Homo sapiens: one gene and its partners. The protein of the gene in region 2 purifies or fractionates together with the protein of the main gene of each other region. This does not show direct contact. Each region holds a gene or a part of one and is shown on either strand. Other genes may lie near its edges.

Evidence for each region.
Region 1: the proteins of DIS3L2 (region 2) and NAT10 purify together in Homo sapiens (co-immunoprecipitation; one large-scale study listed by IntAct). This does not show direct contact.
Region 3: the proteins of DIS3L2 (region 2) and FTO fractionate together in Homo sapiens (co-fractionation; one large-scale study listed by BioGRID). This does not show direct contact.

The regions. Positions count from the first base shown.
Region 1 is NC_000011.10:34,112,113-34,115,768, reverse strand, and holds part of NAT10 (RNA cytidine acetyltransferase), read right to left. Parts: coding exon 3,546-3,656; intron 2,054-3,545; coding exon 1,931-2,053; intron 1-1,930. UniProt on the Homo sapiens protein: RNA cytidine acetyltransferase that catalyzes the formation of N(4)-acetylcytidine (ac4C) modification on mRNAs, 18S rRNA and tRNAs.
Region 2 is NC_000002.12:231,968,169-231,971,824, forward strand, and holds part of DIS3L2 (DIS3-like exonuclease 2), read left to right. Parts: intron 1-3,656.
Region 3 is NC_000016.10:53,710,641-53,714,296, reverse strand, and holds part of FTO (alpha-ketoglutarate-dependent dioxygenase FTO), read right to left. Parts: intron 1-3,656.

The DNA of each region.
Region 1 (3,656 bases), on a different chromosome or scaffold from region 2:
CAGGGTCCAAATACAAAGCTCTATCCAAGGAGACATGGGCAATCTTGCTGGAAACAAAATCACTCCCACACACACTGCTGTGCCAAATGGTATTTGCTGAAACTGGGATCAGACACTGAATGCAACGTTGCTTATTAAAATCTTTCACTTTTCCACATTTTTCCTAGCATCCTAAGTTATATTCATTTATTTCATAAAATTGGCATGCTGTGTGCCAGATATGCTGTGCATACACTAATGAACAAAGCATGACCTCTGTTCTCATGGCACTTGGAGTATAATGGATGGAGGAAGAAAAATTAGTAGATAAATACAAATTTTGACAAATGCTACATATGAAATATAGACTGCACGGATAGCAAGTGGGGGTCACTTATGTAGGGTAGTGAGGGAGGGCCTCTCTGAGATAAGCTGAGGCCTGAAGGGTAAGTAGGTAGCTATGTCAGAGGGAGAGGAAGAACAAACTGATGTGAGCACAAAGTCATTCATTCACTCTCAACTATCTAAGGAATGCTTACTAAATGCCAGGAACTCTTCTAAGATCTGGAAATGCAACAGCAAAGAAAACTAACTCTCTGTTCCCATCAAATTTATTTACTTATTTATTTATTTTGAGACGGAGTCTTGCTCTGTTGCCCAGGCTGGAGTGCAGTGGCGTGACCTCAGCTCACCGCAACCTCCGCCTCCTGAGTTCAAGCAATTCTCCTGCCTCAGCCTCCCTAGTAGCTGGAATTACAGGTGTGCACCACCACACCTGGTTAATTTTTTTTGTATTTTTGGTAGAGACGAGGTTTCACCATGTTGGCCAGGCTGGTCTCAAACTCCTGACCTCAGGTGATCCGCCCACCTCAGGCTCCCAAAGTGCTAGGATTACAGGCGTGAGCCACTGTGATCGGCCCTCCAGTGAAATTTAGAGACTAGTACAGGAGGACAGACAAATAATAATAATAACTTTAGGTCATTGTCAAGTGCTTTGAAGAAAAATAAAGCCGGTTAAGGAGTGACAGGCGGAGCTGCCTACTGTAAACAGGGTGTGAGGAAAGACCACATGGATGAGGTGATATCTGAGCAGGGGCTTGAATGCAATGAGGAAGCGAGCCAGGCAGAGGTCCAGAGGAAGCACATTCCAGTGGGAACAGCAAGTGCCGAGGCCCTCGCAGGAGTGTGTGCTGGGCATGTCTGAGGACATTTGAGGAGGCCAAAAGGGCTGTAGTGCAAGTGATGAAGGGAGAAGTAATGACAGGAAACAGCCCCTAAGATTTGAGGAAAGTCCATTTCATCAGATAAATGCAGCTCAGGAAACCCTAAGTCCAATCCGACCACCATTACTGAGCTGCTGGACATGGGCATGACTTAAAACTTGCCTCTGAACACTGACTTGGCAACGCTGATAAAGTGAGGAGACCAGCTCTGCATCAGGTGAGACATATCCCTAATTCCTCACCATGTCCTCAGTCAGTGTCTTTTGCTTTGGGAGAACACAATCTCTGCTGGAGTTGAAATTCTTGCCAAACTGGAGTACAACTGGCAAATGTTCCTTCGTCATCCATTAGGATAAGGGCCAGTGAGCAGTCTGCACATGGTCCTTTTTTTGCAATACACAAATTTAGGCACTGGCATTGCTCCTTGTACAATATCATTCCAGAAAATTTAACTACATAAAAGCTGTATCATATCTGAATCTCACTGGTGTAGAATTTGCAAGTGCCTGAAAACAAAGGTGAAATTCAGAGATTCCTAGGCATACTCATGGACCCTGAGATTTAACTGTAGTGACTTTTTCATTAGTTAAAATCAAAGAGCTCTTAGCCCAGAGGCTGTGCTGACTACTCACTGGAGCTGCCCAACAGGAATTCTTTAAAGAAAGCAGAACACAGCAAAAACAGATTTACTTGAACCCTCACAATTAAGTTAAAAAACAGATGCTTACCATAGTCACTGTGTACAATTGCTTGAGTGAGTTCATGGTCCGTAGGAGGATGACCACTAGCCCACCACCTTCCACTGTTTCTACAGTCCTGGCCAGCAAGTTTGGAGTTAAGGCTTCAAAATCCTGGAAGAAGGGGGCGTTAGAAAGGGCTGGTCATGCAAATAGCAACCCAAAGGACTTTTTTTTTTTTTTTTTTTTTTTTGAGATGGAGTCTTGCTCTGTCGCCCAGGCTGGAGTGCAGTGGCGCAATCTTGGCTCACCACCCACCTGAGCCTCCCAAAGTGCTGGGATTACAGGCATGAGCCACCGCGCCTGGCCCAACCCAAGGGACTCTTAACCAAAAGCCAGGTGATAAGGCAAAAAGAAGACTTCAGAGCACAAAGCCAAGACCATACCTGTTCCCACCTTGACTTCCCAGGATACACACACAGGGGTACCACAGAAGAGGGCCAAACCCTCGAATATACGAATACCTGGTTTTATATGCCAAAAACGGGTCTCTTATTAGAGACGTTGTTAGTTTTATATGTCAAAAATGTCTCTGATAAAATCCTATTTGGAAACAAATTTTCCAACCTTCACTGATTCATACTTGAATTTCAGAAACATCTTACATTTTCTGACATTTATAGCTCAAACCTGTTTGACAAAACTATACTACATGGGGGAGCTACTGCTCACAGGAGTCATTATTCAGGCAATTGATCATGGCAGCAAGTAGAAGACCACTCCCTACCAATCAGTGATAACCCAGGGCATTTCCCTGAGTAAAGGTGAAAATGAGGCATAATGCCCTCTTTCTTGGCCTCCAAGGTGAGATGCAAGCCAGCAGTATAGGAGACAACCCATATTTTGCAAGGTATGTAACTTGACATAATAATGGGCACAGTTGTAAGTGTATATGATAAACACACAAAAATGTGAGGATTTGTGCTTAATTTTGTCTTGTCTTTTTTGGGAGAATGGGGAAGGGAGGTGGCACAGGAATCAAAGAAACAAAGAATAAAACAAAGACCACCAGTGCTTACACACACATGCACACACACACACACAAAGTGAAACTTAGTCTATTAACTTGCCAGGCAAGAGAATACACACCAGTGCAGAAATTCACCAAGTAGTCTCTGAGAGGTAAAGTGAGGGGTTTTTAAGGGCTAGAAAAGGGGAGAGGGGCCTTCATGGTGGGTATGCCACTCAGGCACTCTGGACAGGACATTTAAGTGCATTGGTCTATATCCGGTTGGAAAACAAGTCCCATTGCTCACTGGACAAAAAAAGTCTTTGGTGAATGCCAATAAGGACCTAGGGTCCTAGAGGCACTCAAAGTCTCTGGCATTTGCTTTATCAGCTTTAGCTAGTTAGAACCCGTTATAATAACTCATCACTTCAGTTCTGGTGTCTCTAGACAAGTGCTGATTTAAAATTCTCTTTTTATATGGGGTAGGTGACCGAGTGTACTTTGGAAAGTGGCCAGGACTTCCACTAATAATGCTTGGGCATAGGGAACATGGGACTCTCCTCTCCTTACTGTACATCTGTTCCCAGTGGAAAGCCAGGCAGCCCAAGCAACCCTCAAGACTCTGACTTCAATCACAGGTTAGAGGAAGCCACCCACCTGCAGCACACACATGCCGAAGGTATTGCCCAGGATCTTGTGGGTCTCGTTGTAGTAGCAGTAGCGAATGTTTGTGGCTGCTATGAAGAGTTCAAAGGGGTCGTCCTGCTT
Region 2 (3,656 bases):
CTCACTGCAAGCTTCGCCTCCCAGGTTCATACCATTCTCCTGCCTCAGTCTCCCCAGTAGCTGGGACTACAGGCACCTGCCACCATGCCCAGCTAATTTTTGTATTTTTAATAGAGACGGGGTTTCATTGTGTTAGCTAGGATGGTCTTGATCTCCTGACCTCGTGATCCGCCCGCCTCGGTCTCCCAAGTGCTGGGATTACAGGCGTGAGCCACTGCGCTTGGCCTAACTGATGTTTTTATCACTGTACATTAACTTTCATTTCCTAGAATTTCCTCTTATTTTATATAAATGGAACCACACAATATGTAGTTATCCTTCTTTCACTCAGCATAATTGAGAGTCATCCCTGTTGTTAAGTGTATTAGTAGCTGATTCCTCTTTATTGCTGAGTAATATTGCATTGTATGGATGTACCTCAGTTTATTAATACATTTACCTACCAATGGACATGTTGGTTGTTTCCAATTTTAGTTATTAACAAATAAGGCTTCTATAAAAATTTTGTTTACAAGGCTTTGTATGGACATATGTTTTTATTCCTCTTGGTTAAATACCTAGGAGTAGAATGGCTGGATCATATAATAGGTATATGCTTAACCTTTAAGAAAACTGTCAATGTTTAGTTATCCGTAAGTATTTCATAGTTTTTGGTGCTATTTGATATGGTTTGGTTTTAGGTCCCCACCCAAATTTCATGTTGAATTGTAATCCCTACGTGTCGAGGGAGGGAAGTAACTGGATTATGGGGCTGGTTTCCCCCATGCTGTTCTTGTAATAGTGAATTCTCACAAGATCTGATGGTTTCATAAATGGTAGTTTTTCCTTTGTTCTCACATGCTCTCTCACTTGCCTGCCGCCGCCGTGTAAGACATGCCTATTTCCTCTTTCACCATGATTATAGTTTCCTGAGTCTTTCCCAGCCGTGTGGAACTGAGTCAATTAACCCTCTTTCCTTTATAAATTACCCAGTCTTGGGTATTTCTATCAGTGTGAGAATGGACTAATACACTATTAAAATTATATTTTTAAAATTTATATTTCTGATTGACACTAGTATATAGAAATATGATTGATTTTTTTACATTAATCTTCTCCATCAATCTGGCTAAGCTCACTTAGTTCTTATTAGTCCTAGACCTTTTTTTTTTTTTTTTTTTGAGTTGGAGTCTCGTTCTATTGCCCAGGTAGGAGTGCAGTGGCGCAATCTTGGCTCACTGCAACCTCTACCTCCCAGGTTCAAGCAATTCTTCTGCCTCAGCCTCCTGAGTAGCTGGGATTACAGGTGTGTGCCACCACGCCCGGCTAATTTTTGTATTTTCAGTCGAGACGGGGTTTCACCATGTTGGCCAGGCCAGCGTCAAACTCCTGATCTCAAATGATCTGTCCGCCTCAGCCTCCCAAAGTGCTGGGATTACAGGCGTGAACCACTGCGCCTGGCGTCCTAGAGCTTTTTAATAGATTCCATTGGATTTTCTATGTAAAGATTATGTCATCTGTGAATACAGTTTTAATTCTTCCTTTCCAGGCTTTTATTTCTTTTTCTTATTGCACTGGCTGCAATCCCCAAGTAACAATGTTAAATAGAGATGGTGAGAGCAGATTACTTGTCTTGTTTCTTCTCTTAGGGAGAAAGCATTTAGTCTTTCACCATTTGTATATGCATTTTATCACTGGAGAAGTTTTCTTCTATTTCTAGTTTACTGAGATTTTTTTTTTTTTCGAGAGTGAACATTGGGTTTTGTTAAGTGCTTTTTCTGAATCTACTGTGATGATCATATGATTTTTTTTTTTCGAGACAGGGTCTTGCTCTGTTTTCCAGGCTGGACTGCAGTGGCATGACTGTGGTTCACAGTAGCCTTGACCTCTGGGGCTCAAGCAGTCCTCCTACCTTAGCCTCCCAAGTAGCTGGGACCACATACTACACCTGGCTGATTTTTTTTTGTTTGTTTGTTTTTTAGTAGAGATGAGGTCTTGTTATGTGGTCGAGGCTGGCCTTGAACTCCTGAGCACAAGCAGTCCTCCCACTGTCACCTCTTAAAGTGTTGGGATTACAGGTGTGAGCCACTGCACCCAGCCACTTTTCATTTGTTAATATGGTGAAATATCGCATCGATTTTCAAATACAGCCATTTGTTGCCTAACAATGGAGATGCATTCTGAGAAATGCATTGTTAGGTAATTTTGTTGTGCAAACCTCATAGAGTGTACTTTCACAAATCTAGATGTTGTAGCCTACTACACACCTAGGCTATATGGTAAAGCCTGTGGCGCTTAGGCTACAAAACTGTACAGCATGTGACTGCATTTAATACCATAGGCAATTGTAATAGAATGCTAAGTATTTATGTATCTAGATGTATCTATACATAGAAAAGGTACAGTAAAAATACAATATAAAAGATAAAAAAATGGTACACCTGTATAGGGCATTGACCATGAATGGAAGTTGCAGGCTTGGAAGTTGCTCGGGTGAGTCAGTGAGTGAGTGGTGAATGAGTGTGAAGGCCGAGGACATTACTGTGCACTACTGTCGACTTTACAAACACAGTACACTTAAGCTATACTGAATTTATAGAAAACATTTTTTCTTTCTTCAATAATAAATTAACCTTAGCTTACTGTGACTTTTTTTACTTTATAAACTTTAATTTTTTATATTTTGATTCTTATAATAATACTTAGCTTAAAACACAAACACATTGTACAGCTGTACAAAAATACTCTATGTCCTTATTCTATAAACTTTTTTCTATTTATTACTTTTTAAAATTTTTTGTTAAAAACTAAGACACAAACACACACGTTAGCCTAGGCCTACATAGAGTCAGGTTCATCAGTATCACTCTCTTCCACCTTGACATCTTGTCCTGCTGAAAAGTCTTCAGGGGCAGTACATGCATGGAGCTGTCATCTCCAGTAACAGTGCCTTCTTCTGGATACCTCCTGAGGGACCTGCTTGAGGCTGTTTTATAGTTAACATTTTACAGTTAAATTACTTATTTGATTTCCAAATTGTACTTTAGGTTTGGAGGTGCGTGTACAGGTTTGTTACATGGGTAAATTGTGTGTTGTCGGGGTTTGGTGTACAGTTTATTTTGTCATTTTTTTTTTTTTGAGACAGAGTCTCAGTCTTTCGCCAGGCTGGAGTGCAGTGGCGCGATCTGGCTCACTGCAACTTCTGCCTGCAACCTCTGCCTCCCGGGTTCAAGTGATTCTCCTGCTTTAGCCTCCCGAGTAGCTGGGACTACAGGTGTGTGCCACCACGCCCAGCTCATTGTTTGTTTGTTTGTTTTTTGAACGGAGTCTCGCACTCTCGCCCAGGCTGGAGTGCAGTGGCGCCATCTCGGCTCACTGCAAGCTCCGCCTCCCAGGTTCACGCCATTCTCCTGCCTCAGCCTCCTGAGTAGCTGGGACTACAGGCGCCCGCCACCACCCCTGGCTAATTTTGTGTATTTTTAGTAGAGACGGGTTTCACCGTGTTAGCCAGGATGGTCTCGATCTCCTGACCTTGTGATCCGCCTGCCTTGGCCTCCCAAAGTGCTGGGATTACAGGCGTGAGCCACCGCACCCTGCCCAGTTTTTGTATTTTTAGTAGAGACGGGGTTTCACCGTGTTGGCCCAGGATGGTCTCAAACTCCAGACCTCGTGATCTG
Region 3 (3,656 bases), on a different chromosome or scaffold from region 2:
CTCAGCCTTGAATGATCCAATCACTAAATGAAGGTGCCAAAGGGCAGACTTAGGGCTAATGCAGAAATCAGAGCTCTGAATTTTCTGATCACAAACAATTATGAAAACACTCATGCTCTGGCAACAAATCTCCTCCTCAGAGCAGCTGCAACATAATTTGGTCCTTCAAACTGAATTTTCTACTTGGTTTCTACCAGTTGTAAAGGTCTTAACTGCCCTTTATCCATATGGCAGTTTTTTAACATAAGGGGAGGCATGGTTATCTTGTAAGCAGGTCATTTCCAAAACTACAGAGTAAATAAATGATCAGCATAGCAACAGGACAGATGCTTATAGCAAAAACAAAAATGTACGTCTAATAGTCAAACTCATAGAATCAGAGAGTAGAAAGATGATGACCAGGGCTGGGAGGATGGGAAAGAGCTAATCAAGCGGCATAAAGTTTCAATTATACAAGATGAATCAGTGCCAGAGATCTGCTATACAACATTGTACCTACAGTTTACAATACTTTATTGTACACTTAAAAATGTGGTAAGAGAGTAGATCTTATGTTGTGTTCTTACCATAATAAAATACATTTTTTTAAATGCAAACCATGGCACCAATTCAAGGTTTAACTTTCAAACATGTGATGGCTTAACAAAGAGCATGCCAAGGACAAACGTTTGGAAACAAGCCCCTACCAACACAAATCTTCATCTCTTGAACCTGTTCTAATCCAACCCAAGGAATCCTAAGAATCCTCCCAGTTTACATTGTGAAATCAACCAGTGAGACAATTTTATAAAATATTACAAAACCAGTTTATAATAGAAGAGTAAATGAATGTGCTTAGCAGAACTCTAAATTCACCTTCTCTAAGGTGTGTTTTTCATTAAGGTTCCAAAAGTACCACCTTAACAAAAGTTCCTCTCCTCTAGAAGTTAGAAAGTCACACTTTAAATATAACTTTAGCAAGAAAACTGCCATAATAAACTAACAACAACAAAATACTCTAAATCTGAAAGGTAAACTGGCATTTTAAAATTGGAAGAGAACACTTGAAAACAAGTGTTGACAGTTGCTAAAGTATGTGTTGAACAGAAGAGTCTTGTTTCTCAAAATTAATGCCCACACCTATGGTATATTAATTTAAAATTCATAAGGTACTTAACCATTTTCCATTACTTCTTTCAAATTCCGGTTCCATCTCTCACTATTAGAAAGTCTACTGACCAATAACAAGTGATGCTCTTGGGAATTCATTCATTCATTGTTTGACAAGTATGGAATATCTACCATGTGTCTGGCAAAATCTTAAGGGCTAGGGATAAAATGGTGAATGACAAAACGGAAAAAAAAAAAAAAACATGATCTCTACTTTTTTGGAGACTATCATCTACATGCCAAAATCTGTATCACTAAACTCAGCCACAGTAAATCTCATTAGCAGCCAAGGATCCAGAATCATAATTATGAAGGGTCACATATATCACATAACAGATGCTGGACTCTCTCAACCATTTAATCTTTCTTCACCAGATACTTATTAATGTCTCCTTTGTGGAAGACATCCTGCCAGGTACAATGGAGAGATGAAAAGATGAATTAGACACAAATGCTATCTTCAAGGAAGCTACTGTTTGCTCAAAGTGTCTAAGAGTTTTTTTGAATGGCTAATTTAGTTTTCAAAACCAGTACTAGGAGGGTTAGGAAACAGCCTGGAAATAACAGAAAGCAACAAGAACTCACTGTTACTCGATAGTTTAGCTGGTTAATTTTCAAGTAAGGTACAGTATTAAAAGTGGTTTGGAAACTATGATCAAATACACTAACTCTTCTTCTATTTACAGAAGTCAACTAAACCTCCGAAACAGTGATTAAAGGCTTACCCATATATTGAAGGAGAGATTAAGCAAAAAATAATAATGGATTTCGGGAAGAAGGAAAAAAAACAGAGTAGAATCTGTCAGGTGAGGTTTTCATTTTTCAAGTCCCCTGGTCTTTGGCCTAACACCAAAACTGTCCTATATTTAGTGTCCACTTTAGATAAACTGGTGACATAATCTAGAATGGCCCATAATAAAAGTAGACTCCAAAAGAACCTTCTCAGGACCTCAATAAAATGCCAAATTTGAAATATAAAATAAGGTAAAAATACCCAGTCAGTAAAAACATAAATAACAAACTTTCTTTTGTTGAGTTATTGTTATTATTATTTAGAGACAGGGTCTCACTCTGTTGCCCAGCCTGGAGTGCAGTGGCATAATCACAGCTCACTGTAACCTCCAACTCCTGGTCTCAAGTGAGCCTCCTCCACCTTGGCCTCACAAAGCATTGGGATTACAGGTATAAGCCACTGCATTTGGCCAAGTTATTATTTTTATAACTCAATAAACCTTATCATTTAAAGTTGATAAGACAACTATCACCAAAAGCAGAAGAGTTTTTAAATCATGTTACTTAAAACGGTAGGTTACATATTCTGGATATTTTCCTTCATTGATAAAAATGTACATTACTCAAACAAAATTATTAAATGTTCTTAGGTATATAACCATTTCCATAATAAACTAGTTCTATTTTTAATAGTTTAAAAGATTATCTAACCTAAGCCAGCATAAGAGTCTTTGAAGCTAACTTGGATTTCAACATCCATAGCTTTTTATTCCATGACTAATGAAACAGTTTTAATGTTTCTGAAAAACCCCGTAAGGAATCCCAGGCCTCTCATAAGGATACACCTTTAAACAGATCTTCTAAGGAAGGAATTCCATGACTACTAGGCCATGTTAGATCCTCTTTGCTACCGTGTCCTCCCGTGATAAAACTCACCACTCTGCTGTTGGTACTTACTTACCTTCCATGGACAGCCAGCCAGTTCCATGGGACTGTGTCTGCCATCTTTACCCTGGTGCTGAGTACACTACTCGACACTTAATCAGGTTCCTTATCTGAACCACAGAACACAGAAAATGGTTTGAGTGACTATATTCTCAATTTTCTGAAAGGTGGTACAAAACTAGTACCATTCTGGCTGCATGGGAAATAAGTTAATGGAACCCCATTTGAGAAAATCCACTTGACTAGACACTCAACATAAGTTTACAGAATAAACGTCCTGGGATCAGAATACATATATATATATATACATACAGAATATATATCTACTGGGGTCAGATAGGCAGTAGTGAAGGTGGTGGTGATGATGGTGATAATGATGATGATAACAATGTTTATTTTTACTGTATGCCAGCAATGTTTTATGTGCTATATAATATCTCAATCCCTACCAGAACCATATCACTCCTATTTGATAGATGAGGAAATGGAGGCTCAGAGAAGTTAAATTGCTTGCGCAAGTAAATGAGGGAGCAGAATTCAATCTCAGGAGTCTGCATCTAAAGCTCCACACTACACCACTATATTGTAACTTAAGGGGCAAAACTGGATGACAGCAAAATGGAAAGCACATTTCCCACCTAAAAGGGAAGCCACTATTCAATTCTAGTTAGGAAAATGCATGCCCACTGTTACCAGATACTTAAGTTTTTCAAGAGAGTCAGACACCCAGATCTTTATGTGAAATCCCTCAACTTTTAAATATTAGAAAATAATTCTGAAACAACTTTTAGTTTGTTTGGGCCAAATAAAACTTACCTACAGCCAGGAGG